Linked DNA regions of Homo sapiens: region 1 is reported to be linked to region 2. The links are microRNA targets in miRTarBase. Many come from high-throughput screens and were not tested one by one. Region 2 holds a microRNA gene; the other region holds the end of a gene's coding sequence.

Region 1 (14,992 bases), not on the chromosome of region 2:
CTGTAATCCTAGCACTTTGGGAGGCCAAGGTGGGCAGATCATCTGAGGTCAGGAGTTCGAGACTAGCGTGGCCAACCATGGAACCCAGGAGGCAGAGTGAGCCGAGATTGTGCCACTGCCCTCCAGCCTGGGCGACAGAGCGAGACTTCGTCTCAAAAAAAAAAAATGCACATTGTACACCATAAATATATACAATTTTTATTTGTTAACTATACCTCAATAAAGCTGGTGGTGGTAGCAAAGAGATTATATAGGATTAGAAGAACTCAATGAATAGGTTCTGAGTAAACGCCACCATGTAAGTCTTCTAGACTTCTTATCGATCCACTCATTATCCTACATATTTGTTTCAACTATTGCTGACTGCCAGTTTACAACTCTAGAAACTTTTTTCCCCAGTAAATCAAACCATTCCCACCAAACAAACAACTGACAGCTGGATTGAATGGCCTAATAGGAAACTGACAGAGTAAAGAGAGATTGTTTCCTAGCTTTTAGGTGAAAGGCAAATATTTTTCTTTTTTTTTTTATTTTTGAGACAGTGTCTCGCTCTGTTGCCCAGGCTGCAGTGCAGTGGTGCAATCAGGGCTCACGGCAGTCTTCACTCCCTGGGCTCAAGTGATTCTCCCACCCTAGCCTCCCAAGTAGCTGAGACTACAGGTGTGCACCACTTCACTTGACTAATTAAAAAAATTTTTCTTTGTAAAGACAAGATTGCCCTATATGCTCAAGCTGGTCTCAAACTCCTGGCCTCAAGCCATCTTCCTGCCTTGGACCTCCTAAGTGTTGGGATTACTGGTGTGAGCCACTGTGCCGGGCCACATCTTGCTTTGGAGATTTCCCCAAAGCTGCTCCCCATACCTTGGAAAGTATTATGCAATGACTCCTGCTGGTCAGCTGTGACTCAGGTGCTTTTTCTTTTTTAACCTCTCCATCCTATATTTATTTATTTATTTATGTTTTTTTTTTTTTTAGTAGAGATGGGGTTTTGCCATCTTGGCCAGGCTGGTCTTGAACTCCTGGCCTCAAGTGATCCGCCCACCTTGGCCTCCCAAAGTCCTAGGATTACAGGTGTGAGCCACTGCACCCGGCCCATCCTATACTTTTATTTACTTTTTTCCTTAAGAGAATGTTCACTTGACATCAGCTGAACTTCATTTTGTGCTTTGAAGGACAAAACAGACCATTTCCTGTTTTTTGTTTTGTTTCTTTTTTTTTCTTTTTTTTTTTTTGAGACGGAGTCTCGCTCTGTCACCCAGGCTGGAGTGCAGTGGCGCGATCTTGGCTGACTACAACCTCCACCTTCCGGGTTCAAGCGATTCTCCTGCCTCAGCCTCCCAAGTAGCTGGGATTACAGGCGCCCGCCACCACACCCAGCTAATTTTTTGTATTTTTAGTACAGACGGGTTTCACCATGTTAGCCAGGATGGTCTCGATCTCCTGACCTTGTGATCTGCCCGTCTCGGCCTCCCAAAGTGCTGGGATTCCAGGCGTAAGCCACCGCGTCCAGCCTGTTTTGTTTCTTTGAGCGAGAGCTCTGTCTCCCAGGCTGCAGTACAGTGGCGCGATCTCGGCTCACTGCAACCTCCACCTCCCGAGTTCAAGCGATTCCCCTGCCTCAGCCTCTCTAGTAGCTGGGATTACAGGCTCTCGCCACCATGCCCAGCTAATTTTTGTATTTTTAGTAGAGATGAGGTTTTGCCATGTTGGCCAGGCTGGTCTCAAAACTCCTGACCTCAGGTGATCCACCTGCCTTGGCCTCCCAAAGTTCTGGGATTACAGGCTCTTGCCATCACGCCCAGCTAAATTTTGTATTTTTAGTAGAGACGGGTTTCACCATGTTGGCCAGGATGGTCTCGATCTCTTGACCTCATGATCTGCCCACCTCGGCCTCCCAGAGTGCTGGGATTACAGGCGTGAGCCACTGCGCCTGGCCTTGTTTTGTTTTGAGACTGAGTCTCGCTCTGTCACCCAGGCTGGAGTGCAGTGGCAGGATCATGGTTCACTGCAGCCTGGACCTCCCGGGCTCAAGCTATCCTCTCACCTAGGCAAAACGGATCTTTATCAAAGGTTTTTTTTTTGTTTTTGTTTTTGTTTTCCCCAACTGTCTATAGAATAAAAGTAGTCAATAATTTGATAAGCATACTATTCATTCTATTATGTCTTCATGAAAGGCAAATGTAGGCCAGGCGGAATGGCTCACAACTGTAATCCCAACATTTTGGGAAGCTGCAGCAGGAGGATCACTTGAGGCGAGGAGTTCGAGACCAGCCCACGCAACATAGGGAGACTCCATCCCTACAAAAAATAAAAACAAAATTATCCGGGTGTCGTGGCATGTGCCTGTAGTCCCAGCTACTTGGGAGGCTGAGGTGGGAAAATTGCTTGAGTCTGGGAGGTCGAGGCTGCAGTGAGCCATGATTGTATCACTGCACTCCCACCTGGCAATAGAGCAAGACCCTGTCTCAAAAAAAAAAAAAAAAGAAATGTGAAAGAGAACAGACCCTAGGTCCACTGTCTAGGGAACAGTATATGCTGTGGGCTAAATTGTTTCCCTCCAAATTTGTGTGTTGAGGTCCAAACCCCTAGTACCTCAGAACGTGACTGTGTTGGAGATAAGGCCTTTAAAGAGGTGACTAAATTAGCAAGAGGTCATTAGGGTGGTCCATAATCTAGTGTAACTGGTGTCCTCATGAAAGAGATGAGGACACAGAACACTCAGACCAAGGGATGACCATGTGAGGACACAGGGGGAGAAAAGGAGAAAGGTCTCAGAAGAGACCACACCTGCCAGCACCAGCATCCTCCACTTCCAGCCTCCAGAATTGTAAGAAATGCATTTCTGTTGTCTGTGGATTTTGTTATGGCAGTCCAGGCTGACTAATTCAGTGTATTTATATTTCCAAACTGAAACAAACAACAGGTTTCCATTGCACAGAGGTGGAAGCCTTCTCTGCACAATTCTCAAGCAGGGTGAAGTTCCTACGGGGTCTTATCCTCAGCTATCCAGGAGCTTCCTGAAAAAAAGTCAAAAGGAAGGAAAGGCTTTCTCCAATCTCGCTCAGCTAAAATCTTCATCTTCAGTAATCCTGTTTGATAAAATATTCTGAAAATGAGAGTGCACTAAGTTGTGTGCGATGACCTTGTCGGGCCGTTAAACAGTCAGAGTTTAAATTCCAGCTTGGCCACCTACTAAGTGAGCCTCGGTTCCTCATCACTCATTTTTTCACTCCACATTTATTGAATGTGTGGAAAACAGAGGAGTCATGATGTCTGCCTCTCAGGCTGCTACGAGTGGAACACAGGAGCAGAATTGCTAAGAAGATAGTTAGCTTGGGAACCTGAAGTTGAGATTTCTGTAGACCAACTAACATTTTCCAACACAGCTTTCTGTGATGATGAAAATGTTCTCGGCCGGGCACAGTGGAGCATGCCTGTAATCCCAGCTACTTGGGTGGCTGAGGCACGAGAAGTCCTTAAACCCGGGAGGCAAAGGTTGAAGTGAGCTGAGATCACGTCACGGCACTCCAGCCTGGACAACAGAATGACACTGTGTCTCAAAACAACAACAAAACAGTTGGGCACCGTGGCTCATGCCTGTAATCCCGGCACATTGAGAGACTGAGGCAGGTGAATCACGTGAGGTCAGAGGTTCGAGACCAGCCTGGCCAACATGGCAAAAACCTGTCTCTACTAAAAATACAAAAATCACCCGGGCGTGGTGGTACACAGCTGTAATCCCAGTTACTCGGGAGGCTGAGGCAGGAGAATCGCTTGAACTGGGGAGCTGAAGGTTACAGTGAGCCAAGATCGCACCTCTGCACTCCAGCTTGGGCAACAGAGCGAGACTCCATCTCAAAAAAAAAAAAAAAGAGAGAAAGAAAAATGTTCTCCATCTGCACTGTCCACTGTGGTAGTCACTAGCCTGAGGACTTGAAATGTAGCTAGCCTGACTGAAGAACTGAATTTGAATGAATTTGAATGTAAATAGCCACATGTTGGCCAGCACAGCTGTGCACCATCTCAGCGGGAGATGCCCAGCAACAACTGGATAACACTTGCAGAGCTTGCAAAAAAATGTGGGACTGTGGGAGAAAGCAAGTGTAAACGTGTAAACTTATGGGAGTTACTAAGTGTGAAGAATGAGAAAGAAGAGGATTAAGATGACATTAGCCTGGTGTGGTGGCTAATGGGACACACCTGTTGTCCCAGCTACTTGGGAGGCTGAGGAGGAAGGATCGCTTCAACCCAGGAGGTTGAGGCTGCAGTGAGACATGATTGCACCATTGCACTCAGTCTGGTCAGCAAAACGAAACCATTCTCAAAAATTCATTGGCCTGGTGTGATAGCTCACACCTATAATCCCAGCACTTTGGGAGGCCAAGGAGGGTGGATTATTTGAGGTCAGGAGTTCAAGACCAGCCTGGCCAACATGGTGAAACCTCATCTCTACTAAAAATACAAAATTAGCCATGCGTGGTGGCACATGCCTGTAGTCCCAGCTACTCAGGGGACTGAGACAGGAGAATCGCTTGAACCTGGGAGGCAGAGGTTGTAGTGAGCCGAGATCACACCACTGCTCTCCATCCTGGGCCACAGAGTGAGACTCTGCCTCAAAAATAATAATAATAATAATAATAAATTATTTAATAGTAGTAATTTCATATGGTTTAAAACTTCTTTTTTAATGATTCCTCCTGGCCAGGCATGATGGTGGATGCCTAGAATCCCAGCACTTTGGGAAGCTGAGGTGGGAGGATCACTTGAGTCCAGGAGTTGGAAACCAGCCTAGGCAACATAGTGAGACCCCATCTCTACAACAACAACAAAAATTACTGGGGCATGGTAGCATGTGCCTCTGGTCCCATCTACACAGGAGGCTGAGGCAGGAGGATCACTGGGACCCAGGAGGTCAAGGCTGCAGTGAGTCGTGATTGTGCCACTGCACTCCACCCTGGGTGACAAAGTAAGACTGTCTCAAGAAAAAAAAAAAGAAAAGGATTCCTCCCACATCTGTCTTGCCTTCCTGTGCCCTGTCCTGCTCCTATAGTTAACCCACTTTTTAGTTTCCAGTTTTTCAGTGTTTATGCAAAAATAATAATGGGCTTGCAATTTCCCACCCTTTGTGCACAAAAGGAAGCATACTGTATACGTGGTTCTTTAGCTTACTTCTCACGGAATGGATCCTGCAGACATTTCCACATCAATCAATACAGTCTTCCTCATACTTGTTGATTCTCCACAGTATTCCATTGTGGGAAGTACCTTAGTGGGCTTTTTCCTCTTTTTTTTTTTTTTTTGAGGCAGAGTCTCTCTCTGTTGCCCAGACTAGAGTGCGGTGGTGTGATCATGGCTCACTGCAGTCTCGATCTCCCCAGCTCAAGTGATCCTCCCATTTCAGCCTCCTGAGTAGCTGGGACTACAGGCATGTGTCACCATACCTGGCTGATTTAAAAAAAAAGTGTTGTGTGGTTTTTTTTTGTTTGTTTATTTGTTTTTTTGTAGAAACAGGGTCTTGATATATTGCCCAGGCTGGTCTCAAAGTCCTGGGCTCAAGCAATACTCCTGCCTGGGTCTCCTAGAGTACTGGGATTAATTACAGGCATAAGCCAGCTGTGTCCAGCCTTACCTTAGTGTTTTTAACTAGTCCCCTGTAGATAGGCAATTTGTACATTAATCATGTGTGTGTGTGTTTGTTTTTTGTTTTTTTTGTTTTTTTGAGACAGGGTCTTGCTCTATCCCTAGACTGGAGTGCGGTGGTGCAATCCTAGCACACGTAAGCAATCCTCCTACTTCAGCCTCCCAAGTAGCTGGAAATACTACTGGTGTGTGCCACCACACCTGGCCCAAAGGTTACATTTATGTACCTCTATCTCTCTGAATAGCTGATATACGCCGGGCGCGGTGGCTCACGACTGTAATCCCAGCACTTTGGGAGGCTGAGGCAGGTGGATCACGAGGTCAGGAGATCGAGACCATCCTGGCTAACACGGTGAAACCCCGTCTCTGCTAAAAAAAATACAAAAAAAATTAGCCGGGCGTGGTGGCAGGCGCCTGTAGTCCCAGCTACTCAAGAGGCTGAGGCAGGAGAATGGCGTGAACCCGGGAGGCGGAGCTTGTAGTGAGCCGAGATTGCGCCATTGCCCTCCAGCCTGGGCGACAGAGCGAGACTCTGACTCAAAAAAAGAAAAAAGAAAAAAAAAATAGCTGATATAGAACAACATACGACTGACCAAAGGCAAAAATCAGGAAACCTTTTTCGAGGTCACTTTCTACTTTAGCCTGGTATGGTTTGTCCTAAGTATGCATCAGTACTTTGGAAATGGAACTTAGACCCACCTTTTTTGTTGCTGTTGTTGAGACAGTCTCACTCTGTCACCCAGGCTGGAGTGCAGTGGTGCAATCTTGGCTCACTACAACCTCCGCCTCCCGGGTTCAAGTGATTCTTGTGCCTCAGCCTCCTGAGTAGCTGGGATTACAGGCGTGCGCCACCATATCTGGCTAATTTTTGTATTTTTAGTAGAGATGGGGTTTCACCATTTTGGCCAGGCTACTCTCAAACTCCTGACCTCAAGTGATCTGCCCGCCTCGGCCTCCCAAAGTGCTGGGATTACAGGTGTGAGCCACCGCGCCCACACCCGGCCTAGACACACTTTAAAAATGCTGCTCTACTTCCTAGCCCTCTTCTGCCTGTCACCCTCCTTTCTCCTCAAACCATTCTTCCTTCCTAATCTTCCTACTCCCAAACTACGGAAGAAAGAGAACTGCTGGATAATTATTCTTTTTTTTTTTTTTTTTTGAGACAGAGTCTCGCTCTGTTGCCCAGGCTGGAGTGCAGTGGCGCGATCTTGGCTCACTGCAAGCTCCGCCTCCTGGGTTCAGGCCATTCTCCTGCCTCAGCCTCCCGAGTAGCTGGGACTACAGGCACCCGCCACCACACCTGGCTAATTTTTTGTATTTTTTAGTAGAGACGGGCTTTCACCGTGTTAGCCAGGATGATCTCGATCTCCTGACCTCGTGATCCGCCCGCCTCGGCCTCCCAAAGTGCTGGGATTACAGGCGTGAGCCACCGCGCCCGGCCTTGCATAATTATTCTTGAAACACTTAAGATTCATGACAAGGGGCAGAATCTAGGTAGAAAGTGCTTAACTAGATGTTAAACCCTGTGGCTTGAGAGCCCCAATGTTAAACCAAAGAGGTATAGTAAAGGCTGGTGATAGACCAGGAAAAAGCCTGCCCCCACCTAAGCCCCCAGCTTTACCCCGCTTTGGTCATGGCCAAAGCCGTGTTGGGGCTCAGGCCTGACGGACCAAAAGACAAGGCCCATCTATAAAGAATCTTGGAGGCCCATTTTGTATTTGAAATACTTCAAAAATTTCCAACAACATCAGGGCTAATATTTGTACAGGCAGTTACTTCAAGTAAAAACAAGAGAGATGGGTACAAAGTGAGGAAAGGGAGGTAGGATCAGGGCTGGGCTAGCACTGGTGTGTGGAGTAACCTGATTAAACCGTGCTGTGCTTCTGTCCTCTCCTATTGTCTCTGAAAAACCATCTAAATTTGCTTTATAAACATGTATAAGCCATTCTCTATAAGTGCGTGGCTAAGAAGATAATTGTTCTGTTAAGTTTTTTCTTAGAGACAGGGTTTCACTCTTTTGCCCAGCTGGAGTGCAGTGGTACAATCTTGGCTCACTGCAGCCTCCTGGGCTCAAGCCATCCTCCCACCTCAGCCTCCCGAGTAGCTGGGACTACAGGCTCGTGCCACAGTGCTTGGCTAATTTATTTTTGTAGAGATGGGGTCTCCCTATGTTGCCCAGGCTGGTCTGGAACTTCTGGGCTCCAGCAATCCTCCCACCTTAGCCTTCCAAAGTGCTGAGATTACAGGTGCGAGCCACCATTCGAGCTCATTGTTTTATTTTTAAAGAACATTAATAAAAATTATGGCCAGGCACAATGGCTCACACCTGTAACCCCAGCACTTTGGGAGGCTGAGGTGAGAGGATTGCTTGAGCCCAGGAGTTCAAGACCAGCCTGGGCAACATGATGAAACCCCATCTCTACAGAATACAAAAAAAAAAAAAAATTAGCTGGGCGTGGTGGCTCACGCCTGTATGCCTGTATCCCAGCAGCTCCGGAGGCTGAAATGGAAGGATCACTTGAGCCTGGGAAGGTCAAGACTGCAGTGAGATCATGCCACTGCACTCCAGCCTGGGTAACAGAGTGAGACCCTGCCTCAAAGTAAAAAAAGATAATATAGATATCTGCCACTATACTTAGTGTTTATTCTGTGCCGGCCAGATCCTGGGCATTTTACCTAGAATACCTTAACTCGTTTCTTTCTTTTTTTTTTTTTTTTTTTTTTTTTTTTGAGACAGAGTCTTGCTCTGTTGCCCAGGCCGGACTGCAGTGGCGCCATCTCGGCTCACTGCAAGCTCCGCCTCCCGGGTTCACGCCATTCTCCTGCCTCAGTCTCCCGAGTAGCTGGGACTACAGGCGCCCACCACCGTGCCCAGCTAATTTTTTGTATTTTCAGTAGAGACGGGGTTTCACCGTGTTAGCCAGGATGGTCTCGATCTCCTGACCTCGTCATCCTCCCGCCTCGGCGTGAGCCACCGCGCCTGGCACCTTAACTAGTTTCTAAACTCCAGAAATATTAGTGTTCTCAGGCTTTCAGAAGAGAGCCATGGTCTAACACGAGGTGCTTGGTAACTGCATGGTCATGTGGTCGGCTTGCTGTTTTCGCCTGGTGACTTCCTCACCTGTGCGGGGTCTGCCCGTTTAACGCACCTGCAACATGCATTCCTGGACAGTGGGTGGCGCCATGGAACCATCTGCCGTTCTCACTGCACCCCTTCATTTGTGGCAGCCTTAGCTTTTAGTGGATGAGGGGAGTCTATTGGTTGATAAAAAAGACTGTGAGACTTTTAAAGCATATCCATCGACAGTGATAACGAGGAGACGTAAGCAGGAAAGGAGGCAAAATGATCCACTATGCCAGTGGTCAGGAAACGTGTCTCAGGAGGTGGCACAGAAACTGCCAAGTCCTTGGCATGCCCCTGGCTGGGGCCTGCGTGGGCCAGGCTGAGAGAGCTGTGGACTGAAGAGAAGCAGGTGTTAGACGTGCAGACAGTTCCCGGGCAGGAGCTGGAGGCCGAGGAAAAACGCAGCTTGCAACATGCTGGAGTTCAGGAGCAAGCTGTGTGTGTGTCTTAAGAATTGCTTGTAAGAGTTACTATAACCAAATCGACAAATGTCAACTTGGCTAATAAATCGTACTTGGTAGAATAAAGAGGACAGTTCTCAGTGCACGATCCTGTTTCTTCCACAATTCCGGTCTCCTCTCCATGGTGCCTTCGCTGAGGCAATCTGTGCTTTCCCTGAACTCTGTGTCACCTCTCAGGCTAGCCGTCCTTAGCCATGAACAGAGCTAATGAACATGAGCCATGAACATGAAGCTGTCCAGGGGTAACCAGTGAGTTCAGCTCAAAACAGGGGAATGCCAGAGTGTTGTCAGCATGAGTGGGGAGAAACATGTAATTCAAGAATGTAGCCGGGCGTGGTGGCTCACGCCTGTAATCCCAGCACTTTGGGAGGCCGAGGCGGGCGGATCATGAGGTCAGGAGATCGAAACCATCCTGGCTAACACGGTGAAACCCCGTCTCTACTAAAAATACAAAAAATTAGCCAGGCGTGGTGGCAGGCGCCTGTAGTCCCAGCTACTCGGGAAGCTGAAGCAGGAGAGTGGCGTAAACCCGGGAGGCGGAGCTTGCAGTGAGCCGAGATCCCACTACCGCACTCCAGCCTGGGCAACAGAGCAAGACTCTGTCTCAAAAAAAAAAAAAAAAGAAAAAGAAAAAAAAAGAATGTAAAAGGGCACGTAGTTCAAAGTCTCTCAATCTATAAAGGAGGCACATGGCAAATCATTGGCAGAAATAGGGTCAGAACCCAGGAAGATTTTGCCTTAGTCGAACCATCACTTTATTTCTGCACTTACAATGCTGATCTCAAGGAAATGAATTGATGCTAGTTCATTTCTTCTATGATCTATTAAACTGATCAAAAAGAGCCTTTTGCAGGCCTGTTTTTAGACTTGTAATTGACACTTGCTGAAATCTTTCATGTCAATGCCCACCAGTATGTCCCTGATCACTAGTGTACAAAACTGTGTCACAAAGAATCTATTTGGGCCAGGCACGGTGGCTCATGCCTGTAATCCCAACACTCTGGGAGGCCAAGGGGAGAGGATCGCTTGAGCCCAGGAGTTCAATACCAATCTGGGCAACATGGTGAAACCCTGTCTCTATCAAAAATTAAAAAATTAGTTGGGGGTGGTGGATGCCTGTAGTCCCAGCTACTCAGGAGACTGAGGTGGGAGGATGGTTTGAGCCCAGGAGGCAGAGGTTGCAGTGAGCCAAGATCACACCACTGCACTCCAGCCTGGGCAACAGAGCCAGACCCTGTCTCAAAAAAAAAAAAAAAAACAGAAAAACTGGCCACCCATGCACCTTAGCCAAAAAGAATCATATGAAAAAGAAAATACATGTTGTGCATGTGGAAGACTAAAAAAATAAAAAAGGAAAAATCAAGTTGTAAGAATCGACTCCAGCTCTTGTCCTGATTTTTAGGCTCTTCTTGCTTCTTTCCATGTGTTCATCACTGTGATGCTGATAAGAGCCAGAAAGCCTAGGAAAGCTTTGTGGACACTTTTTTTTTTTTTGAGACAGAGTCGCATTCAGGCTGGAGTGCAGTGGCACAATCTTGGCTCACTGCAAACTCTGCCTTCCCAGTCCAAGTGATTCTCCTGCCTCAGCCTCCCAAGCAACTGAGATTACAGGCACCCGCCACCACACCCAGGTAATTTTTGTATTTTTAGTAGAGACAGGGTTTTGCCATGTTGGCCAGACTGGTCTGGAACTCCTGACCTCAAATGATCCTCCCATCTCGGCCTCCCAAAGTGCTGGGCATAAGTCACCACACCCAGCATTTTTTTTCAACTTCTGAACATAGGGCAGCTTAAAAATGTGAAGGCCGGGCATGGTATTTCGTGCCTGTAATTCTAGCACTTTGTAAGGCCGAGGTGGGAGGCTCACTTCAGCCCAGGAGTTCGAGCCTGAAAAACACAGTGAAGCCCTGTCTGTACTTTAATACAAAAAATTAGCCAGTCTTGGTGGCACATGCCTATAGTTCCAGCTACTCAGGAGGCTGAGGTAGGAGGATCCCTTGAGCTCAGGAAGTTGAGGCTGTGGTAAGCCAAGATCACACTACTGCACTGCAGCCTGGACAACAGGAGACCCTGTCTCAAAAAAAAAAAAGGAGGGGGGGGTGCCGAGCGCAGTGGCTTACGCCTGTAGTCCCACCTACTCGGGAGGCTGAGGCAGGAGAGTTGCTTGAACCCAGGAGGCAGAGGTTGCAGTAAGCCAATATCACCCCACTCCACTCCAGCCTGGCAACAGAGCCAGACTCCGTCTCAAAAAAAAAAAAAAAAAAAAAAAAAAAAGGCCGGGTGCAGTGGCTCATGCCTGTAATCCTGGCACTTTTGGAGGCCAAGGCGAGACCAGCGTGGCCAACATGGTGAAACCTCTTCTCCACTTAAAATACAAAAATTAGCTGGGTGTAGTAGCGCACGCCTGTAGTCCCAGCTTCTCAGGAGGCTGAGGCAGGAGAATTGCTGAAACCTGGGAGGCAGAGGTTGCAGTGAGCCGAGGTCATGCCCACTGCACTCCAGCCTGGGTGATAAAGCAAGACTTCGTCTCAAAAAACAAACAAAACGTTAACATTCAGAGGCAAGCGATGGGGTCTATGAGATAGTTCATTTGTGTTGCTGCTGAACCAGTAAACAATGCCAACAAGAACAAACCTGGGAAGCGGACCTGGGCAGGCATGCAAAGAATGTACACTCTACCCTCTGTGGCCTTGCTAAGCTCAGCTCTCGGTCCCGTCCTCTGTCCAGATGCCCCTGGCTATCATGTGTATAGTGTGTCTAGGTAGCCTCCGGAACACAGCCTTCTTAGTCTGCAGATTCCTGCTCTACATCAGGATGAGAAGTTTGTTAGTAATCACCTGGTTTTACAGAACTGATGTGTTACCAAAACATTTTTTTTTCTTTTTTTGAGGCGAGGGTCTCACTCTGTGGCCCAGGGTGGCGTGCAATGGTGTGATCTCTGCTCACTGCAACCTCAGCCTCCCAGGTTCAAGTGATTCTCATGCCTCAGCCTCCTGAGTAGCTGGGATTACAGACATGCACCACCACACCTAGCTAATTTTGGTATTTTTAGTAGAGATAGGGTTTTGCCGTGTTGGCCAGGCTGGTCTCCAACTCCTGGCCTCAGGTGATCCGCCTGCCACAACCTCCCAAAGTGCTGGGATTATAGGCGTGAGCCACTGCACGTGGCCCAAGATGACAATTATGATTATATAACATGACAGTAGGAACTTCCTGAGGCATAGGACTTGCAAAGGCAGTGACACATTTTTATATAAATTAACTTTTATTTCTGTAACATATAAAAGGTATAAATAGGACTTATGTAAAAACCAATCACCTGCACACACAAATTATGTGAAATTAGTTTATATATCTCTTTAAACCAGAGGGAGGAAGAAGCAGGATGAGGTCCACCTGGCCCACCATAAGTCCTTCCCCACATGCTGTCGTGTATTAATAGCTTCTGTGGCCAACCAGGGTTATCTGCCAGGCAGTGCCTCAGGATGGGGTGGGGGGTGGTGGTGGTGACGAGGTGTGAGGCTTCTGGGCATGGCTGTGAGGGAGGCACTTGGTGGGATACATGCCTGAGATGGAAACAGTCTCGTCCTCACCCAGCAGGTGGGACTTGTCGGTGGGGGACAAGCCAAGGGTCCCGCAGCTGCCAGTTGGCCCTCCTTCACATGCTTATCTGATGTGGTGCAGGAACAACAGGCGGAGGTGAGAGGTCAGTCCACAGAAGGGAGGTCTGAGGGAGCAGCCGCCACGGGTGTCCCACCCAACGCTGGCAAACAGTTCTGTGCACAAGGGATGCAGCTGAATGGTGCTGACGGTGGAGCTCACAGAGCTCCTGCATTCTCAAGGTTTGGATACATTCTGGGAAGGGTGAACTGGTGTAAGAGTCACATAATACGTGGAGGGGTGTAATAATCAAAAAAACGTAGCAAAACACCTTCTGTGCCTGAGCCAGGGTTGAGGGAGCCGAGAAGAAAGTCCACAGCTCTGCCACACGGGCCAGCAGTGCTCATGTCTGCTGGCTGATCCTCCCCAAAGCCTCTCCTGCCACCTTTTTTTTTTTTTTTTTAACTAAACTAAATGGTCAATACTGCCATCTCTCTTGATAATGACAAAGTGTTTGCACAGGATGCCTACAGGTGTGTGTGTCGCTCCTCACTAATGGATCCGTAGTCATATAGCTGTGAGAGGCACTCCTGGGTTGAAAATGAAGGCAATTATCACATTACTGTCAGTCCTGACTGAGTCACCTCTAGAGTTTATGCTTTCAGCCTTAATTGAAATGAAGACAATTATATAAAATTCTCACATAATTGATCACAAATGTGATCACAGCCACTCTTGACTAAGATTGGTGCCGGCCAATCTGCTGTGAGGGAATGAAGAGAGGAGAGGAACTGCGATGTCAGTCCCTGATTCTACTGCAAGTTTCCAAGCACATGAAATCCCATTCTAGCTTTGGAGACCCCAATGTGACAAGAATCTCCCTGTGCTTTAAATCATCTCTCACCCATGCTAAGCTGTGATCCCTCACCAAGTCTATGAAACCTGGAAAAGGAGTGAGAGTGCGCGGGGTGTGTGTGTGTTTTATATATTCAGGGGTCGTTCCAAAAGGGGCAAACTATTGCTCTTCGTGTGTGTGTTTTATATATTCAGGGGTCGTTCCAAAAGGGGCAAACTATTGCTCTTCGTGTGTGTTTTATATATTCAGGGGTCGTTCCAAAAGGGGCAAACTATTGCTCTTCGTGTGTGTGTTTTATATATTCAGGGGTCGTTCCAAAAGGGGCAAACTATTGCTCTTTGTGTGTGTGTTTTATATATTCAGAGATCATTCCAAAAGGGGCAAACTATTGCTCTTTAAGTCCTGGGGCAGGGAGGGGAAGGGGAGGCCACTGTCTGCTCCTGAAAGCTCTGTGGGGAGAAGGGCTCCCTGCCTGACTGTTCTCTCATTCACACGCCAGCTTACTGTCAAAGCTAGAAAGACCGATGCCAAAGGCCTGTACTGCACAAAGTGGGTAGTTGTAATCCAGTGTGAACACGTCATCTGCCACACGTCCAAACTGCATGACTATATAATCAGCTAGAAACAGAAAGAAATCAACATGTTAGAATATAATGTGGTTGCACTCAGGGAAATCTTTTTCTTTTTCTTCCTTTTCTTAGATGGGGTTTTGCTCTGTCGCCCTGGCTGGAGCCTAGTGGAATGACCACAGCTCACTGCAGCCTTGACCTCCCGTCCCAGGCTCAAGTGATCCTCCCACCTCAGCCTCCTGAGTAGCTGGGACTACAGGCAAGCGCCACCACGCCTGGCTAATATTTTACTTTTTGTGAAGATAGGGTCTCACTATGTTGCTCAAGCTGGTCTCAAACACCTAGGCTCAAGTGATTCTCCTGCCTCGGCCTCCCAAAGTGCTGGGATCCTATTTATGATACAGAAAGAATCCTCCAAATAGGCCAGTTAATCACCAGGTTTCTGTAGAATAGAGAGCAGCTTGCTGGGAATGTCATAAACTCCGCAGGCTAGAGCTGCCAGGAACCTTTATTGGGGTCATTTGCCTTTGTTTCCCAAACAACCTACTCTATGACTTCTCTGATTTTTTATTTTTTTCTGAGACAGGTTCTTGCTGTCACCCAGGCTGGAGAGCAGTGATGCAATCTCAGCTCACTGCAGCCTCGACCTCCTGGCTCAAGTGATGCTCCCACCTCAGCCTCCCGGGTAGCTGGGACTACAAGTGCCTGCCACCACGCCCAGCTAATTTTTCTATTTTTTGTA
Region 2 (15,719 bases):
CGTGGTCCGCCCGCCTCGGCCTCCTAAAGTGCTAGGATTACAGGCGTGAGCCACGGCGCCTGGCCTATTTGTACAGTTTTGTAGTGTTTTTGTGGAGGTAACTCCAGACACTGTTTTGCTTTCATGGTCAAAAGTGGAAATTTCTTCTCCCCATTTTTATCTGGATCCTGTATATCCTTCATTTCTATGTTTTCTTAAAATTATCTTTTAATTAATTAATTTTATTTTATTATTATTGTTATTATTTTTGAGATAGGGTCTTACTCTGTTGCCCAAGCTGGAGTGCAGTGGTGCAATCTTGGCTCACTGCAACCTCCCCCTCCTGGATTCAAGTAATTATCTCACCTCAGCCTTCCGAGTAGCTGGGGCTACAGGTGTGTCCCACCATGCCTGGCTAATTTTTGTATTTTTTGGTAGAGATGGGGTTTCACCATATTGGCCAGGCTTGTCTTAAACTCCTGACTTCAAGTGATCCTCCTGCCTTGGCTTCTCAAAGTGCTGGGATTACGGGCATGAACCACTGCACCTGGCCTATTTTATTTTATTTTTTTAGAGAATGAGGTCCCACTCTGTTGCTCAGGCTGGAGTTCAGTGGTGTGATCATAGCCCACTGCAACCTTGAACTCCTGGGCTCAAGCGATCCTCTCCACTTAGCCTCCCAAATAGCTGGGACCACTGGCGTGTCCCACTATGCCTGGCTAATTTTAATTTTAATTTTTTTTTTTTTTTTTTGGTAGAGATGGGTTTTCACTGCATTGTCAAGGCTTATCTTGAATTCCTGGCCTCAAGTGATCCTCCTGCCTTGGCCTCCCAAAGTACTAGGATTACAGGCATGAGCCACTGTGTCTGGCCTATCCTTCATCATTCTTGTTCTTGTATTGCTCAATTTGGCTTTACTCACAGGAATTTCTCCTCATTGTGGCCTCTGGGTTGGAAAAGATCCCTGGTTGGTTAATTTTAAGAGTTCATAGAATCTAGTCTGCCCTGGTCCCTTCAGTTTCTATTGTTGACTCCATGCACTCAACTGTTATTGGATTAGGCAAGACATCTTCTAGTTTTAGCTGCTGTTCTCTAATAGCCTTCCCATGATTTCTGGTGAGTACCTGTTGATTATTTTGAGAGACTGGTTTCCCTGTCCCCCATCCCCAGGTCTGTCAGATGCTCTCTTGCTTCCTTTGTTTCCTCCCACACAGATGCTGATTCTATACAGGTCTGTGGCTCTTGTGGTTTGTTCTCATAGACTTGTCTTTTGGGGTTTATCTTGATATTGTAAATATTATCCATGGATTTTGGGCTTGCAATCTAGTAGAACTACTTGTTTTCATGTGAGTATTTGGGAAGATTTTAAAACAATGTTGCTGTTATTGCCATTACCTTCCCAGGATTTTACTCTATATTTAAAAAATTATTTTATAAGTGGCATTATTATTTTAAAATTTTATTTTCTAATTATGTATTGCAAGCATAGACATATAAATAATTTTCATTTATTGCTGTTTGCATCCAACAATCTTGCTAAATTATCTTATTAATTTAAATAATTTATCTGTAGTATTCTGGATCTTCCACATAGATATATCATCTGTGAATAGTGAGTTTTGTTTAATCTTTGTCTTTTATTCCCCTTGCTTTCCTGTGTTGTCTAAAATATTTAATGCAATGGGAAGGAAGTGCTGATAGCTGGTTTCATTGATTGTTCTTGATTTCAAAAGGCAAGCTTTCTTCACTTCATTATTAAATATGTGCCTATGTTTAAGCATATGTTCACTATTAAGTATAATCTTTTTTTTTTGAGAGACACCATTTATCAGGTTAGGGAAATTATTCCTGGTTTGCTAAAAGTTTTTCTCCGTAAATCATCATTGTATTGTATGTTTTTCCTATATCTCTTGAGATGATAATATTTTTCTTCTTTATTATATCAATGTGACTAATTATATTGATTTTCTCTAGTGGTATGCTTTGAATCATCTCTACTGAGTTTTTTGCTTTGTAGTTACCACGAAGCTTACATAAAACATCTCCTGCCTCAGCCTCCCAAAGGGCTGGGATTACAGGCATGAGCCACCATGACCAGCCCCAAAGGCTGGATTTTTGTACCTAATTTTTTCTTCAGCCTTTTCTTCCCTGCATGATTTTCTGCTTCTCTCTTAATGTTATGGAAGCATCATTTGTCTCAGGGAGACGCCCATCAACCCACCAATAACTCCAATAAATCCAATAACAGAGGAGTGGCCCACCTGCTGTTGCATTCTCTGGCATACAGCTTCTGGAAGCTGTTGGTTCACTGGAGCAGAAGGTCTTTGGCAAGTGATTGTTTTTATTTCCCACAAGTTGCTGGGAAAGTATTTACTTACTTCCTGAAACACTGAACCACTTCATCAGGAAAAAGAGATGTGAACTGACTCCTCAGTGATTACAGTTTGGTCCTGTTTCTTGTTTATGTAGCAGAAGTTTCTCTGTTTTTGACATGAGGATGGAACCTATTTTTCAGAAATGATGCAGATATCCCCATATTTGTAATATTTTAAAATCATTGGTTTTTTTTTTTGTTGGGTAGGGGGAGATTGTGGGTAAGTTTGGAGATTGGTGTTCATGTGGCTATCTTAGAAGAAACTTCCTTTTGTTTTGATGGTGAATTGTAGGAGTGGCAGGTGCTTGGAAGTTTAAAAAATTTAACAAAATTTTGACATAATTTCAGACTTACAACACTTCCATCTTTCCTTGTCTTTATTGACTGTGACATTTTTACTGAGCACAGGCCAGCTATTTTACAGAATGTACTTCAATTTAGATTTGTTTTCTGGTGTTTCCTCACGATTGGAGTTTTGTTACATGTTTTTGGCAGGAATCCCACAGAAATGATGTTGTGCTCTTAATGCATTGTATCAGGAGTTATATGATATCAGGTGACTATTATTGGTTTAGGTAGTGTGTAATACTCTAAAGATACTAGTTTCTTGGGTTTTTTTGGGGGGAATATCTTGTGGGGAGATACAGTAATACTATGCAATTATCCTGTCCCCATCAAATTTTCATCATCTTGTTTTAGCAACCATTGATGATTCTTGCTTGTGTCAGTTATTACTCTGGTAATTTCCAAACAATGATTTGTTAAAAAGACATATTTATTGAGGGATGATTGACAAGTAAAAAACTGTACATATTTCATGTGTACAACTTGATTAGTTTATGATAAGCAGTGACCTTCTAATTCATCGTTCCTTGTACATTTATTAGTTTGTATTCTACTATAAGGAAGAGGTTTTCCTTTTCCTGAGTTGTATCCCTGTGGATTCATGGATTCTTGTTTTAGTCTGTTGGTTCTCATCTGTTACTATTCTTTATTTTGATGTTCTGATTTGTCCAGATTTCGCTGATGAGAGCTTCTTCAATTGGATTTCTTTGTCCATTATGATCTTTTTATTTTCACTTATCAATACATATTTTTTCTTGATTATGATTATGATTATGATTATGATTTTTTTTTTTTTGAGACGGAGTCTCACTCTGTTGCCCAGGCTGGAGTGTAGTGGCGTGATCTCAGCTCACTGCAAACTCCGCTTCCCAGGTTCACGCCATTCTCCTGCTTCAGCCTCCTGAGTAGCTGGGACTACAGGCGCCCGCCACTGTGCCTGGCTAATTTTTTGTACTTTTAGTAGAGATGGGGTTTCACCGTGTTAGCCAGGATGGTCTCGATCTCCTGACCTCAGGTGATCCACCCACCTCGGCCTCCCAAAGTGTTGGGATTACAGGCGTGAGCCACTGTGCCCGGCTGATTATTATTATTTTTTTGAGACAGAGTCTTACTCTGTCACCTAGGCTGGAGTACAGTGGTATGATCTTGGCTTACTGTAACCTCTGCCTCCCGATTCAAGTGATTCTCCTAAGTCAGCCTCCCTAGTAACTAGGATTACAGGTGCCTGCCACCATGTCCGGCTATTTTTTTTTTTTTTTTTTTTTTGCATTTTTAGTAGAGATAGGGTTTTGCCATGTTGGCCAGGCTGGTCTCAAACTCCTGACCTCAAGTGATCCGCCTGCCTTGGCCTCCCAAAGTACTGGGATTACAGGCATGAATCACCATGCCTGGCCGTATTTTTATTGATTATTAAAGTAATACAGGTGAGTGGGGAATGGTGGCTTGTGCCTGTAATGCCACCTACTCTGGAGGCTGAGACCGGAGACTCACTTGAGCACAGGAGTTCGAGGCCAGCCTGAGCATCATAGTGAGACTCCCATCTTGAAAAAAACTTTTAAAAATTAGCTGAGTATGGTGGCACATGCCTATAGTCCTAGGTACTTTGGAGGATAAGGTGAGAGGATCCTTTGAACCCAGGAGTTCAAGGCTGCAGTGAACTGTGGATCATGCCACTGCATTCCAGCCTGGGTGACAGAGTGAGAACCTGTGTCTGAAAAAAAAGTAATACAAGATTTTAAAAAATTTAATGTAAAAGCAGGGATAAGGATATAAACATATTTGTAGCCATCATCGTCTTTTTTTTTTTTTTTTTTTTTTTGAGACAGGGTTGCCCAGGCTGGAGTGCAGTCGTGCGATCTCGGCTCATTGCAACCTCCGCCTCCTGTGTTCAAACGATCCTCCTGCCTCAGCCTCCTGAGTAGCTCAGATTACAGGCGTGAGCCACTGCGCCTGGCCTGATCATCTTCTGTATATTGATGTATTTCCTTTCAGCCTTTCATTGCATTTTTAAATGTAGTAGAGATAGAACTAAAGATAGAAATTTGTATCTTAGTCTTATGTTTTTAACCTGTAATTGAATTATAAGCATTTTCTTGTGTAACAAAGAGCTCTTTGGAAGCTGTGTCTCACAAGCAGTTATCCATGTCACCCAAATGTGCCAGTGCTGCCTTGAAGCCCATCTACTGCCTCTGCTTTTGGAAAGCATGCTCCTTCCCCCACTGAAAGAAAACTCCAGTTTCCCCTCTCTCTTCCTCTCTTTCATGTAACTTTTTTTTTTTCAGCACACTCCTTGCCTTTTCTCTTGTATTTGAAGAGCCAACAGAAGTTCAGAGTGGCGGGAACTTGGAGAATAAGGAGGAGAATAGCCCTAGATGTGAGGTAGAACACCATCCTTTTGCTGGAGATAGAGCAGTAGGCAGAGATGGACAATGAATAAATTAACAATCAATAGATAATAAAGTCAGGAGATGAGAAATGCCATGAAGTAAAGAGAGTTGTGGGTAGGTAGCTGCTATTTTAGATAGGTGGACAGGGAAGGCATCTCTGGTGAGGCTATATTTGAGCAGAGATCTGAGTGTTTTACAGATTAGAAAGCTCAGAAAGGTAAAGTAACTTTTCTAAGGTTACAAGGCAGATTTAGTATTAAATTAGTTTAGTTTAGTTTAGTTTTGTTTTTAAATTCAGAAGCCCTCTGTAAATAGTACTTCAGTGTTCTTAGAAATCCTTTTATTTCAGGCTGGGTGCAGTGGCTCACACCTGTAATTCCAGCACTTTGGGAGGCTGAGGTGGGCGGATCACTTGAGGTCAGGAGTTCAAGACCAACCTGGCTCTACTAAAAATACAAAAATTAGTCAGGTGTGGTAGTGGGCGCCTGTAATCCCAGCTACTTGGGAGGCTGAGTCAGGAGAATCGCTTGAACCCAGTAGCTGGAAAAAAAAAAAAGAAATCCTTTGATTTCAGGGATTCCTGACTCTTGGGTATGTCTGTCTCTATCCCTATCCTGTACAAGAAAACATTTCTTTTTTTTTTTTCTTTTTTTTTTGAGATGGAGCCTTACTCTGTCTCCCAAGCTGGAGTGCAGTGGCCTGATCTCGGCTCACTGCAACCTACGCCTCCTGGGTTCAAGCGATTCTCCTGCCTCAGCCTCCCGAGTAGCTGGGATTACAGGTGCCTGCCACTATACACAGCTAATTTTTGTATTTTTAGTAGAGACGGGGTTTCACCATGTTGGCCGGGCTGGTCTCGAACTCCTGACCTCAGGTGATCCATCTTCCTCGGCCTCCCAAAGTGCTGGGATTACAGCGTGAGCCACCACGTGAAAACATTTCTAAGAAGTGAAACTTATGCAAGAGATTTTTTTGTGCTTTAAATGTCAGTGGTGGTATAAAATTTGCTTTAAGGAGATGTTGAGGATTGTTTTGTAACTCAGTAGTTACTTGACTCTAAAATCTAAAATCTACAGATTTTGGTGTCCTTCAGGTCTCCTCAGGAAGATGAACCCTCCCTTGCAGAAGCGGGAGCTGCCCCAGAGAGTCTGTGTGAGATGAAGACAGAGGCCCAGCCTTCGACATCCTTGCTGGCAAACACCTCATGGACTGGCACAGTGATTTCTGACAGTGTCCCAGGAAGTCAAACGTGGGAAGACAAGGGTTCATTGACCCGGTCTGCAACATCTTGGACCTCAGAGGCCCAAGTTTCAGCAGCCCGGGTTGCAGAGGCTCAGGCCAGGACCAGTCAGCCCAAGCAAATTTCTGTATTGGAGGCGTTAACTGCCTCAGCCCTGAACCAGAAACCCACGCATGAGAAGGTGCAGATGACAGAGAAGAAAGAGAGTGAGGTCCTCCTTGCCCGTCCGTTCTGGTCCAGCAAAACTGAGTATATTCTGGCTCAGGTGGGCTTCTCTATGAAGCCATCTTGTCTCTGGCGCTTTGCCTACCTGTGGCTTAACAGTGGAGGCTGTAAGTCTGGGGACCAGGAAACCTGGGTCCACAAGGGGCAATCAGGACAGAGTCCTGTCCAGGCTTTAACCATGAATGTTTCTGAGATATGTAGAGACTAAAGACCTGGTGCTCTGAGCAGGATAGGAGCCAGGTCCCTGGACACTTAGGATCATGAGAGGTTCAGGGTATCTGAACATGGGGATGGCAAAGCTGGAGGCCTGGGCCCAAGATGGGCTGGAAACTAGGTACTTGGGTCTTCCAGGATTTGGGGGCCAGAGGACTGGACACTTGGGACCGTGAGGGATGTAGACATGGGTGAGCCCTGATGCCTGTGGCCCTGGAAGAGGTCGCTGGTAGGGAGAATGTTTTCCTGGGCTCCTGGAGTCCAGGCACTGAAAGGCCACATGGTTCTCAGAGTCCCTTCTGAATCTTCTTCACAGGCAGTTTCGCTGCCATCTACATCTTCATGCTGTTCCTGGTCGGGGTTCCTCTTCTCTTCCTGGAGATGGCAGCTGGTCAGAGCATGCGTCAGGGTGGCATGGGTGTATGGAAGATCATTGCCCCCTGGATTGGTGGTGTGGGGTATTCTAGCTTCATGGTGAGGAGCCCATGGCTGCCCAGGCCTGACTTTTACACCCCACCGCCATCCCAACCCTCCTCCTGAAATGCGCCCTGTGAATACCTCCATGGGTCAGATCCCTTTGGTTCCCCAATCCTCTGTCAAATCCCCTCCCTTTTCCTGTCCCTGCTCTTCCTCCCCAGCCATATCCTCCTTGGCCCCCAGGTGTGCTTCATCCTCGGCCTGTACTTCAATGTGGTCAATTCCTGGATCATCTTCTACATGAGCCAGTCCTTCCAGTTTCCCGTTCCATGGGAGAAATGTCCCTTAACGATGAACTCTAGTGGCTTTGGTGAGGAGGAAGTGAAAGAAGAGGAGAAGGGAAAAATGGAGAAGTAGAAGTAGAAGGGAATTTGGAATAGGAGAGAGTGGGGAGGGACAAGGAAGAGGAAGAAGAAGGAAAAAGAAATGGGAGAGGGAAAGAGAAAAGGGAGGTGGGGGAGGGGATAAGGAAGAAGAGGGGGTACCTTGTCTAGCAGGCATGTCTAAAGCCAGGTCCCCCCAGATCCTGAATGTGAACGGACAACACCCTCCATATACTTCTGGTACCAGCAGGCCTTGAAGGCCTCAGACAGAATCGAGGATGGCGGGTCACCAGTCTACAGTCTGGTCCTGCCCTTCTTTCTTTGCTGGTGTCTTGTTGGTGCTTTCATGATCAATGGGCTCAAGTCCACTGGGAAGGTGAGCCACCAGTATTGGATTCCTTGAAATTCTCAGATGCTTTAGCCCTTACCTCAATTTGTTACTTGTTGATCTCCTAATCTCTTACTCCTTTGGCTTTTACTCCCCTAGCCCCTGACTCTTGCTGAAGGCTTTCTTCTAACTCCTACTCATTTCTGACTCAGAACTTTTGATCCCTCCTAACTGTTGGTTGACCCCTACTGGTACACGGTTGCTGATATGTCCCACTCTCGATTCAGGTAATCTATGTCTTGGTACTGCTCCCCTGTTTCATCATTGTCGGTTTCTTCATCCGGACTCTACTCCTGGAAGGGGCAAAATTTGGCCTTCAACAGTTGGTGGTTGCCAAGGTGAAATCTATCTCCTCACTCCCCCGTCAGGCCTTGTAGGGCACCACAGCTGCCTATTCTTAGAGCTTCCTTTCCCCATTCTTTACTTTTGTATCTCCCTCTCTCCTCCCTGCAACATTTCTATTATAGTTGTCCTCTGCTTCTTCTTTTACAACCCCCTTATGCTTGTCTTCTCTCTTTTAGATATCGGATGTGTACAATATGAGTGTGTGGTCTCTAGCAGGGGGTCAAGTTTTGTCTAACACAGGCATAGGCCTTGGCTCCGTTGCCTCCTTAGCCTCCTACATGCCCCAGTCCAACAACTGTCTCAGTGATGCCTTTCTCGTGTCTGTGATAAACCTGCTCACTTTGTTGGTTTTCACATCTTTCAACTTCTGTGTCCTGGGCTTCTGGGCGACAGTCATCACACATCGCTGCTGTGAGAGGTAAGGCCGGCCCCTTTGTTAAGGGTCTCAGCTCCAGGGAACTTTAAAACCCTGAGACCCTAACCTTAAAGGTGCTGCAAAGACCCATGTTCACACATTTCAACCTTGGGTGCACTTGCAAGCCCTCTACCTTCCCCATAGCTAAAAATGGAGACAATAGAATCTCCTATCATATATTATCCTTCTCAGAGCCTTTTGTCACCCTAGAAATAAATCTTCAAACTCAGAGATTGCCAGCTATCCACCTCAGAGTGGATATGCTAACAGGGATGTACTAAAAATTGCAAACATTGAAGGCTTCTCTAATCCCAGATACACAACAAAATACCATCCAAGACCATACCACACAGAGACTTCCAAGGCCATCCTTGGAAAAATGGAGAAGTAGAAGGCCCCCATTATTTTATTTTATTTTTATTTTTTGAGATGGAGTCTCGCTCTTTCACCCAGGCTGGAGTGCAGTGGCGCGAACTTGGCTCACTGCAAGCTCTGCCTCCTGGGTTCAAGCCATTCTCCTGCCTCAGCCTCCTGAGTAGCTGGGACTACAGGTGCCCATCACCAGGCCCGGCTAATTTTTTTGTATTTTTAGTAAAGACAGGGTTTCACCATGTTAGCCAGGATGGTCTCGATCTCCCGACCTCATAATCCGCCCGCCTCAGCCTCCCAAAGTGCTGCGATTACAGGCGTGAGCCACCGCGCCCTAAGGCCCCCATTCTTAACTGTTAACTCCTGAATTGGGGATTTCTGTCAATCTAGCAGAAACTCCAAAAGGATTCTCTGTACTAGAACCTTGATTGTCTGATCACCCCTGTTTCTTATTTTTCTTATTTTTAGGCATTAATTCCAAAAACATCCATCAGACAGACATTTAGGAAGTGTTCTTTCTATACAACAGAGACTTGGACAGGTGAATCAGACCACAGTCCTTGTTTCATTAAGTTTTCAATTTTGGAGGGGGAAGGAAAGGAGAATGAGACAGCCAAAAACTTGTGCTAACTGGTAACTGAAGTGATGGGTGAGGACAGGAGACAGAGCCATTAATTCTGTCTGGACTAGTCAGATGGGGCCTTCCAGAGGAGGCAACCCTGAGTTGAATTTCTCCCAGTAATCTTTTTTTTTTCTTTTTCTTTTTTTTCTTTTTCTTTTTTTTTGCTTCCTCCTCCTCTTCCTCTCTCTCCCAGCAGATTTTTTTTTTTTAATTTAAATTTTTGAGAACAGGGTCCCACTATATTGCTCAGGCAGGTCTTGAACTCCTGGGCTCAAGCCATCCTCCTGCCTCTGCCTCCCAAAGAGCTGGGATTACAGGCGTGAGCCACCGCGCCCGACCTCTCCTAGTAACCCTAACCCTCACAAATAACCACCATTTTCTTCTAGAAGATGCCTGGGAATATACATGTGTGCGTGTGCAAGAGTTCTTGACAGCATATAGTTAGGAAAGGAATTGCTGAGTAGGGTGTGCTCCCCTTCAATTTTATCATATATTGTCTGGTTTTCAAAGTGGCGTAATGCATTGCCCTCCCATCAGGGATGTGTGAGACTTCCATTTGTTCTACTTTTTGCACAACACTTGATTAAACTTGGTTGGACTTTTAAATTGTTTCCAGTCTGGTGGGAGTGTAATGGTAGTTTTTTTGTGTATTTTCAAAAAAACCTTTTATTATGAGCTATTACCTACATATGGAAAAATGCATAAAACAAGGCCGGGAGCAGTGGCTCACGCCTGTAATGCCAGCTCTTAGGGAGGCTGAGGTGGGAGGATTGCTTGAACCCAGGAGTTTGAAATCAGCTGGGCGAGACCCTTCCTCTAACAAAAAAAAAAAAAAAGTGTATAAAACAATGCACTGTGTAACGAACCGTGAAGTAAACATCACCTGTATTAAGAACTAGAATAACCCTAGATGCTCTCTGTGTATCTTTTTCTAATCATAATCTCTTTACTGCCTCCCAGAGGTAACCATCATAAAAGTCAGGATAGTGGTTACTATATTGCTTAGTAGATACGCATACATAGATGATCAAATGTAAAGAAAAACAAGCCGGGTGCGGTGGCTCATGCCTATAATCCCAGCACTTTGGGAGGCTGAGGCAGATGGATCACGAGGTCAGGAGTTTGAGACCAGCCTGGCCAATATGGTGAAACCCCATCTCTACTAACAAATACAAAAATTAGCCGGGCGTGGTGGCACACACCTGTAGTCCCAGCTACTCAGGAGGCCAAAGCAGGAGAATTGCTTGAACCTGGGAGGTGGAGGCTGCAGTGAGCTGAGATTGTGCCACTGCATTCCACCTGGGCAACAGAGTGAGACTCTCTCTCAAAAAAAAAAAAAAGAAAAAAAAAAAACAAAGAACTAAGGATAGTGATTAATGTTTTTCTTTATATTCTATCATCTATGTATGCATAGCTAAGCAATATAATTTGTCCACTTATATAAAGCAATATGTTTAGTTATTTGTTCCCTCATATATACATTCTCTTTGCTTACTTTTGTGCTTTCTTTTTCTCATCCAACATGTTTGCAATATTTATCCATATTGTGTATAACTTTAATCTGTGCTCTTTCTTTTTCTTTTTTTTTTTGAGACAGACTCTCGCTCTGTTGCCCAGGCTGGAGTGCAGTGGTGTGATCTCGGCTCACTGCAACCTCTGCCTCCTGGGTTCACACCATTCTCTTGCCTCAGCCTCCCAAGTAGCTGGGATTACAGGTGCCCACGACCATGCCTGGCTAATTTTTTGTATTTTTAGCAGAGACAGGGTTTCACCGTGTTAGCCAGGACGGTCTCGATCTTCTGACCTCGTGATCCGCCCGCCTCGGCCTCCCAAAGTGCTGGGATTACAGACGTGAGCCACCACGCCAGGCCTAATCTGTGCTTTTAAAATGCTGTATAATGTTTCAGTATATGAATATACCACAGTTTTTAAAAATCCATTCAACTATTGATAACATTTGGAGTCTTTCCAGTTTTATGCTATTAAAACAATGTTGCTGCAAACATTCTTATGCATGTTCCTGATGTACTACATATGTGCACATTTTTCTGGGATATGAGTTAGATTGTTGGGGCATAGTTGTCTATTCTTGGGTAACAAATCACTCTGGAAGTAAATGGATTAAAACAACAATGATTTATCTCATGATTCTGCGGGTTGGCTGGAAAGCTCTTCTGCTGGGCTTGTATGGGTTCACTGACATGGCTGCATTTAGCTGGAGGGTTGGCTGGGGGCTGAGCCCAGCAGGGACGGCGCTGCTCACTGCTCTTCTTCTTCTTTTTTTTTTTTTTTTTTGAGACAGATCTTTGCTTTTGTCACCCAGGCTGGAGCGTAATGGTGCAATCTCGGCTCACTGCAACCTCCGCCTCCCGGGTTCAAGCGATTCTCCCGCCTCACCTTCCCGAGTAGCTGGGATTACAGGCACCCACCACCACACCCAGCTGATTTTTGTATTTTTAGTAGAGACGGGGTTTCACCATGTTCACCAGGATGGTTTCAAACTCCTGACCTCAAGTGATCCACCCACCTTGGCCTCCCAAAGTGCTGGGATTACAGGCGTGAGCCACCACACCCAGCCGGCACTGCTCTTCTTTAAGTGGTGGTGGCTGGGTTCACTCCTGTTTGTAGTCAGTTGGCTGGCCAGCAAGGGCTGCTCTCTTCCATGAGGCCTCTCCATGGGGCTAGTTTGGTCTTCTTCACATGGTAGCTCACAGAGCACAAAGGCAGACTCAGCAAAGTGTCTTGAAGCGAAGTATAGGACTGCTTCCATTGCTGCTACATTTCTTGGTTGAAGGAAGTAAAAAAGCTACCCCAGATTCCAAAGGTGAAAAATAGACTTTACCTCTTAATTGGAGGAGCTCCAAAATATTGTGGCTGTATTTATTCAATCTACCACATATATCTACAACTTCACAGATGATGCCAAATTACTTTCCATAGTATCTGTGCCAATTTATAATTGTATGTATATGAAATGTGTGTATGGAAGTTCTCATTACCTCACTCGTGCAAATACTTGTATTGTCATAGTTTAAAGCAAAATGTGTGGTCAAGTTCATTTTTGCCCATTTTAAAAAAAATATTGGATGATCTATCTTTTTCTATGGAGTTCTTTATATGTTCTGGATATGTAGTCATTTTCCAGTTGTATATATTAAAATTCTTTTCTCTCACCTGGTGGAGTGCATTGAACATCCCAGGTTCAAGCGATTCTCCTGCCTTAGCCTCCCGAGTAGCTGGGATTACAGGCATGTGCCACCACGCCTGGCTAATTTTGTATTTTTAGTAGAGACGGGGTTTCTCCATGTTGGTCAGGCTGGTCTCGAACTTTCGACCTCAGGTGATCCGCCCACCTCAGCCTCCCGAAGTGCTGAGATTACAGGCTTGAGCCACCACGCCCAGCCAACAAAGGTTTTTAAAGGAAAAAAATGAGGAGGATAACATAATTGTTTTGAAATAATTTTCCTTGACTACAGAGATCGATAACAAGGGTGACACCAGTCCAAGATTGGATAGGCGTTTGTTGGGCAGATGTTTCTGCAGGAATATTTTGTGTGTGTAAGGTTGCAGTGGCCTTTATGCGTGGTTATAGTTTTTGTAGTTGTTTTTCTAATCAGACATACAAGTGTGAGAACCCTCTCTTTATGGCCTTCCTTGACTCAATTTGCTAGGGCTTTCTTAACATTAGTGACTCCATTTTATTCTGATAACGTTCACATTTCCTCTTTTAATCAAGATCTTTCTCCAAAAGCATCACTGATCAATCATTCATATTTGGGTTTTCCTGTCCCTCAATGTCATGATGGGCCTGTCCCAGTTGCTGGTCTCATGTCACATTGAGGGGAATGATGGGTGACTTGGAGTCAGTGTCAAACTCTTGTAGCCACATTTGAGCAACAAGGGACATTTGAAGGGGGTATCTCTTAGGCTAAGTCTATCTGAGGTCCATTATGAAGTTCAATTTTGTCTGTTCCATAGTCTTTTGTTATCATCTCAAAGTGTTTGGCTGGGCCAGCATTATTTTGTTAGGAGTTGTACTTCTGTAAAAATTTAACAAGTGACAGATACAAAGTTTTAAAAAGGGCAAATATAAAGTAAAATTAATAGTAATATGATAATAGTTTTGTGCCCCAAACCTTATCACTTGTATAAATCAAATGACTGAAGGGCGTTAGATGAGACCAGTTCTAATGGTGTGGCTTTTTTTCTTTTTTCTTTTTTCTTTTTTTTTTTTTGAGACAGTCTCACACTGTCACTCAGGCTGGAGTGCAGTGGCGTGATCTCAGCTCACTGCAACCTCTGCCTCCCGGGTTCAAACAATCCTCCTGCCTCAGCCTCCCAAGTAGCTGGGACTACAGGTGGGCGCCACCATGCCCAGCCAATTTTTGTATTCTTAGTAGAGACAGGGTTTCTACTAAACCCTATACTGGCCAGGCTGGTCTTGAACTCCTGGCCTCATGATCCGCCTGCCTTGGCTTCCCAAAGTGCTGGTATTACAGGCATGAGCCACCCTGCCCGGCCTACATACTTTTTAAAGTATTCTTGGTTGTCAGATTTTTTTTCAGCACTTTGAATATATCATCTTACTCTCTCCTGGACTGCAAGATTTCTGTTGAGAAATGTGTCGATACTTGTACTGGGGCTCCCTTATATGTGATATGCTTTTCTCTTTCTGCTTTCAGAATTCTTTGTCTTCAGTTTTAAATAATTTGTTTATAATATGTCTCAATGAACTCTTCTTTGGGTTGAATTTTATTAGAGACCTCTGAACTTCTTGTACCTGGATGTTTGTATCTTTCTCCAGATTAGGGAAGTATTCAGCTATTTTTAAAGATAAACTTTGTCCTTTTCTCTTCTCCTCTGTAAATCTTGTTATGTAAGTGTTCTCTTGATGGCCTCCCATAGATATTGTAGACTTTCTTTGGTTATCTTCATTTCTTTTTCTTTTTCTCCTCTGACTGGATGATTTAAAATGATGTCTTTGAATTTGCTTATTCTTTCTTCTGCTTTTCTAGTCAGCTGTTGAAGCCATCTATTGTATTTTTTGTTTATTGTTATTCTTCAGCTCAAAAATGTTTGTTTGGTTCTTTTTCATATTTTCAGTGCCTTTGTTTAGCCTCTTCTTTCGTTGTTCTATTGTTTTCCTGATTTTGTTAAATTGTTTTCTCTGTTCTTTTATAATTGACTGAGATTCTTTAGAACCATTATTGTGAATTCTTTGTCAGGCAATTAGTGGATCTGCTATTCTTTGGAGTCAGCTAATGGAAGTTTATTGTTTTCCTTTGGTGTTATCATGATTCTCCAATTCTTCATGATTTTTATAGTCTTGAGAAAAGCATTTGAAGAAGCATTAACTTCAAATGCTTTTTTTGGGGAGAAGAGTGGTGCTCTCTGGCACTGGGTCCAGTGGCACAGAGTGCCAACTGTGGGTGGGGGTGCGTGTGGTGGGTCCAGGTTGGAGGGACACAGAGTCTTGTTAGCACAGGCAGCTGGGGGCTGTGATGTTGATACCTGCATGGTCCTTGGTGGCAACAGCTGTGGGAGGTCCACAGTGGCTGTGAACCTCCCACAGAGTTTTCTGGGACCTCAGCTGTGCCTCTTGCCTAGCATCTAGGGGCCAGGACTCGCAGCAGTGGAGGCTGGGGTCAGTGGTGTGCACACACTCTGCTGCAGAGGCTGGCTGTAGGCACAAGCATGGCAGCAGAGGCTAGTTGCAGGCTCATTAATGGTGGCAAGGGGTGGAGTCAGAGGCAGGGGCTGGGGTTGACTAAGGGCATGCATGTGGCAGTGGGGCCTGACAGCTTGTGCCTAACTGCAGGGGCCTGCTGCAGTCTGGCCACAGAGGTCAGTCCATCTGCATGTACGTGGGCAGTTGCAGGGCTGAGCTGGAGGCGTGTGTGCACATGCAGCCGCGGGGCCTAGCTGAGGGTGCAAACGTGATGCTGGAGTTAGAACCTGGGGATGGGGAGGCATGGCTGTGTGCAGGCACATGCATGGTAGCTGTGCTGGGTCCTTGG

Evidence for each region. The annotated mature microRNA hsa-miR-4324 reads CCCUGAGACCCUAACCUUAA and lies in region 2 at 8,764-8,783, shown strand. An mRNA with a match to its seed (bases 2 to 7 or 8) in the 3' UTR can be bound and repressed. Matches are read on the target gene's strand: a 7mer-m8 pairs with bases 2 to 8, a 7mer-A1 pairs with bases 2 to 7 and ends in A, and an 8mer does both.
Region 1: the mRNA of TULP3 is a reported target of hsa-miR-4324. Seed matches in the 3' UTR shown: 7mer-m8 at 12,791-12,797.

Annotation. Positions count from the first base shown.
Region 1 is chr12:2,938,618-2,953,609 of GRCh38, reverse strand. TULP3 (TUB like protein 3) reads right to left here. Exons shown (of 11, transcript NM_003324.5): 11 at 12,472-14,299. The coding sequence ends at 14,166. Among named protein-coding and RNA genes, the nearest start is that of TEAD4, 13 kb to the left of the region's middle.
Region 2 is chr19:49,301,871-49,317,589 of GRCh38, reverse strand. MIR4324 (microRNA 4324) reads left to right here and starts at 8,722; the gene lies at 8,722-8,793. It overlaps SLC6A16 (solute carrier family 6 member 16), which reads left to right. Exons shown (of 12, transcript NM_014037.3): 2 at 6,179-6,657; 3 at 7,080-7,237; 4 at 7,424-7,550; 5 at 7,764-7,939; 6 at 8,179-8,289; 7 at 8,473-8,714. The coding sequence starts at 6,243. RefSeq lists a silencer at 3,777-3,999.